Regions from separate parts of the Homo sapiens genome. Here region 2 is linked to region 1. A link means that fine-mapping ties the variant in region 1 to the expression of a gene that starts in the linked region. Tissue or cell type: whole blood. Region 1 holds a variant in brackets; the other region holds the start of a gene. All regions are shown on one strand. Distances are from middle to middle.

The links. PIP is the estimated chance that this variant, and not a neighbour inherited with it, causes the effect.
Region 2: it holds the start of FLT4, and the variant in region 1 is fine-mapped to the expression of FLT4 in whole blood (TOPMed, PIP above 0.99).

Annotation. Positions count from the first base shown.
Region 1 is chr5:180,669,618-180,672,301 of GRCh38, reverse strand. It overlaps the pseudogene LOC100420514. Among named protein-coding and RNA genes, the nearest start is that of LINC02222, 13 kb to the left of the region's middle. The variant G/A (reference allele first, on the strand shown) is at 1,562.
Region 2 is chr5:180,648,024-180,650,707 of GRCh38, reverse strand. It overlaps FLT4 (fms related receptor tyrosine kinase 4), which reads left to right and starts at 1,108. Exons shown (of 30, transcript NM_182925.5): 1 at 1,108-1,220. The coding sequence starts at 1,163.

The DNA.
Region 1 (2,684 bases):
CAAAGCCAAGTGAGGAGGCACCACGGTGTTCTCAGGGCCAGGGAGAACCAGCCTCCACGTGGGCCCAGAGTACAGAGGAGCTGACCCGGGGGGTGGGGGTGGCATGAGCACCTATACCCGGGCCCAGGATCACCAGAGCCTTACCCCAGTCAGCAGGTGCCGAGTTCAGAGCCGCCACGGCCAGTACGGGAGCTGACACCCAAGGCACCTGGCTCCCTGCCGGGGTCAGCAGGAGCCAAGCAAGCTGCCTCTCCGCTGGGGAGAGGTAACAGGCGGCCATGAGGCAAAGAAATGAAAACATTCTTCAGCTCAGGCTCCAGTATCCAAGAAGTCGAAGGAGGAGGAGGAGGAGTTTCCTGTAATCCAGACGGGAGGCCCAAATTGGGATGGGTGTGGAAGGACCAAAATCTGACTTTTATAACATTTCCATTCGCCCAAAAAGAAAACTCAATGCCCGTTTGCACAGTCAGTCCTCATTCTCACCCACAGGCCCTGGTAACAACAAATGTACTGTCTGTCTCTATAAATTTGTCTTTTCTGGACATTTCTTACAAGTGGACTCTTACAGGCTGGGCGCGGTGGCTCACACCTGTAATCCCAGCACTTTGAGAGGCCTAAGCGGGACGATTGTTTGAGCCCGGGAGTTTGAGACCAACCTGGACATCATAGCAAGAACCCTGTCTATACAAAAACATAAAATAAACAAATTAGTCAGGCATGCTGGTGCACACCTGTAGTCCCAGCTTCCAGGGAGATTGAAGTGGGAGGAAGTTGAGCCGGGGAGGTCGAGGCTGCAGTGAGGCATGATTGTGCCACTACACTCCAGACTGGGCGACAGAGCAAAACTCTGTCTCTAAAAACAAACAAAAAACATAGTACATTCCTTGGAGGGAAGCCAATAGATTGTACAGGAGCAAGAACCTCTTTCTCATTCACCCCTCTATCCTGAGTGCCTGCCATATAGGAGCAAGATAAATAACTACAGAATGAATAAGTAAATAAGTACATGCACGCAGCACTCCACAGAGAGGCTGGCTCGCAGTCAGCATCCGTCCAGCACAACCACCATGACTGGAGCTGCCACCTGCTCTGAAGAGAGGTTCTCTTCTCTGGTACAAGCATCCCACCACAGGTGGGAAAGAAGAAGACTGGCCCTCTAGCCACACCGAGGTCGGCACGGCTTTTCCTGTAACTACGCTCTAATTTCTCCTGGTGTGCTCTTATTTTCTATATGTGTAAATTATGTGAATTTAAAATTGCATGCTAAAGCCGCTCATAAGGCCTCACTTTGTGCACAATTTTTGAAGATAATATGTCTCACTTCAAATTTTTTTAAAAAAATTATTTGGAGGAGTGATCTTAAAGATGACAGGTCTTAGGCGTATAGACACGTGAATTTAAAATTGCATGCTAAAAACCGCTCATAAGGCCTCACTTTGTGCACAATTTTTGAAGATAATGTGTCTCACTTCAAATTTTTTTTTTAAATTACTAGGAGTGATCTTAAAGATGACAGGTCTCAGACGTGTGGACACATGGCACAACATGGCCACACGGTGTC[G/A]CCATGGAAGCAGTCAGCAAATTGTTGGCACCGTTCCTTCCTCAGTATCTTCAATCCTGGCAGCTGTGTCCCAGCACCTCACTTCTGCAAGTGCTTTCCGTGGGCACACTGCTTTTTGGCGCTTATCACAGTGAGAGATGGGCATGCTTTAAGTAGCAGCGCCAGTGCCAGAGCTGAGAAACTCAAACAAGTCAATGTCTGAGAATCTGTGAGGTAGAAGACACAAGGTCGTGGAGAAAATGAAAGACGGTCTTCAAGTGGAAAGGTATGACACACACACACACACACACATACACACACACATACACATACACACATATACATACACACACACATACATACACACACACACATACACATACACACATACACATACACACATACACACACATACACACATACACATACACACATACACATACACACATACACATACACACACATACACATACACACACATACACATAGACACATACACACATACACACACATACACATAGACACACACATACACACACATACAATACACATACACACACACATACACGCACACACACACCCCCCTAAGTGAAAGGTTAGTTTTGATAAATGTACATATAGAATTGTGTAGGTTCTTCAGAAACACATTGCTTCAAATAAAATGGAACCATCTTGAACCTTTGGCGCATGGTATCTGACTCTGTCCCCAGAGCCAGGAAGAAGGACTCAAACCTTGTTTCCCACAGAGCCCTGGATGGTTGAGGATGGGCTCCTATCCCCAGGGGGGCCAATTTCAGGAGGAAGGAAGTCAGTCACAGGCGTGCCCTGAGTTGTGGGGATGGAATGAGGTTGGGCCGTGGGGTGCTGTCTGAGTCTTCCTCTTCCTTCATTCAGAGGGGCACCCTGAGCCCGGGCCAGCAGCTGCCCTGACCACAGGGCAGATGGCTCAACTGGCAGGCCCCCAGATTCATTCCTTGTAGCCTGCCTGCCTCCCTTCCTCCCTTCCTTTCTGCTTTCTCTCTTCTTTCTCACTGGAAGGGATTACACTGCCCCTCTAGTTCTGTCACTTGCCTTTTTCACCCAACGATAGCTCGTGGCCATCTCCCCACCTCAGTACCCAAAAACCAACCAAATTTGCTCCACG
Region 2 (2,684 bases), 22 kb after region 1:
TTCCCCAACCTTATTTGTTAAATTATCTACACTATCCGCACTGATTTGTGATTCCAGCTTAATAATATAGCCACTTCTTACCTGGATTGGAGAGAGCTGGTAGTGGTTATTGAAAATCTACTCTTGCTTTTTGGCGAGGATGAAAGGGCTTTGGGGGGCGGGGGTGGGGGGATGGAAAATGTGAATGAAACGAAAAGCAGGGAAGGAGGTTGAGACAGTCATGGTCATGGGCTTCATTATTAAACAGGAAAATTCTAGAGACAAACTGAAAAGAGAACGGAAGTCTGTAAGAGGGTTGCCAAGTCAGAAAGCAAAAGCAAAGTGTCGCTTTATTAAAAAGGTGGGGGCGGGTCCTGATTGAGCTGAGAACAAAACATCTGGGGGAGTTCTAAAGCTAGGAGGCCAGGCCTGCAGGGAGGGGGTCGGTCATCCCGGGTGTCCCGCTCACGGGTGCGGCTTCCGTCGACACTGTCCGTCGACACTGTGCAGGTAAACACTGCTGAACGGGTTTTGTTTTTGCTTTTTTTTTTTTTTTTTTGGCTCCCAGACTGGAGTGCAGTGGCGCGATCTCGGCTCACTGCAACCTCCTTCTCCCGGGTTCAAGCGATTCTCCTGCCTCAGCCCCCCCGAGAAGCTGGGATTACAGGCGCGCACAACCAAGCTCGGCGTATTATTTTATTTATTTGCTTGTTTATTTTTGAGACTGGGTCTCCCTATGTTACGCCGGCTGGTGCCACTATTTTCAAAGATGTAACATACTATTTTTACAAGGATTGCTTTCTTGTTTAGTCTAGATTTTACCGATGGAAAGAAAGGACGGAAAAGAGCGCGTGCCGCATTTTGCTCCCCTTTGCCCACCAGGCTCCATCACCTCCGGAGCGCATCGCGAGACCGTCTGCGTTACCCGCGTCCCCGCGCCCGGAGCCGCCCAGGAGGGGGCCCGGACCCTGTGGTGCGGAGCGCGCACTGCTCGGGTGCACCGGACGCCCCGCGGCGGGCTGGGAGGGACGGGGGGAGGGGGGCGCGGGGAGCGGCCTGAATCCCGGGCCCGCCTCCGGCCCCCGCCCCGCCCCGCCCCGCCCCAGGCCAGCCGGCGCCCGCGCGGACACTTTCAGCCCCGAGCCGCGGCCGCTCGGGTCGGACCCACGCGCAGCGGCCGGAGATGCAGCGGGGCGCCGCGCTGTGCCTGCGACTGTGGCTCTGCCTGGGACTCCTGGACGGTGAGCGCGGCGAACGGGCCACCCGCCCGAGCGTGGGGCTGGCCGGGGAGGGGGTACCGCGCACCTGGGGCGGGCGCTGAGACCGCTCCGCCGGGTACGGGCGGGGGACACGGTGGCCCTGGTGCGCGGACGCCTGAGGGGAGCACGGCGCTTGGGGCGCGGGACCTCGGGATGAGGAAGGGGCGGGCGGGGACCGCAGCCGGGTCAGGGCCAGGGCGGCCGGGCCGCGCCTCGGCGCAGGGGTAGCTCTCCCGGCCCCTGAATCCGCGTCTCCGTCGGTGGCTCCGCGTCCTCGGAGCCGGGCCCTGCCGGGCTGCGCGCTGAGCCCGGATCCTTCGCGCCCTTACTCGCTTCCCCGCGGGGTCCCCGCGCCGCGCCGTCCCGACCCACGCGCGCCGGAGATCCATCCCGGCCGGGCCCCGGACTTGGGTGCGCACTTCCCGACGCCCAGCGCCTCCGCTCGCGGTCGGTCCCCCAGAGGGCGCTCGAGGCGGGCTTCCCCCTCCCCGTGGCCGGCGACGGCGGGGACAGGGGCCGGGGACCACCGCGCGCCCGAGGCGGACGGGTGCAGGTGCACGCTGGCACTTGAGACGAATCTTGAGGAGGCGAATCGCGGGCTGTCAGCGCCGCAGAAGGGGCGGAAGGCCAGGGGTCCCCGGATTTGAGGGGACAGGGGCCTCGAAGGCCAGCTGAGGAGCAGAGGCCCCCGCGGGAGGGTCCCCTGCACAGGAGAGGCGGGGTTCGGTTTGTGTTGGGATGTGGCTCTGGCGGGGAGAGACGCAGACCTGAAGCGGAGGCGGAGGGGTTGGAAAGAGGGACTGTGGGGGATGAGCGGGCGGCAGAGGGAGTGGATGGAGATGTCAGGGAGGAAGCTGAGAAGATGAGCTGGGAGTCCCCACGGAGCTGGTGTCCCTGGAAATCAAAGGGTGTAAGGGCGGGGTCAGGGGTTCCAGTGTCTGAAGCCCTGAAGTCAGCGACGGGGACCTCAACATTTCTGCACGCCATAGGAATTAAATACTGGCTTTACATGCTTGTAATTCTCACAGGGAGTGTCAGACCCATTTTACACATGGAGAAGCTTAGACCAAGGACATGTGTCACTTCCCCAAGGTCCCCAGGAGGCCCAAAGTAAGCCTGACAAAGCCTGCCTTTGCTCACCACCTGTATGTCCACTGGCTGAAGGGCAGAGGACAGGAGAGGGGGCAGGTCTGGCTCAACCAGGGGAGGAGGGAGGAGAACATCTATCTGGGCCTCCGAGTCGGGCAGGCCAGATCAGGGCGCTGCCCTTGGCCCTCCTGGACCCAGCCCAGGACCAGGCTCCCACAGGTGCTCAGGATGTATTTGTCGAGTGGCTGGTAGACCTTGGTTGGACTGCAGGGCTGTAGAATGGGAGACGCTTATCCTGGAGGAGACATGGGACAGGCACCTGGGCGCAGTGTCTGAGCTGGGCTGAGTAGCTGGAGA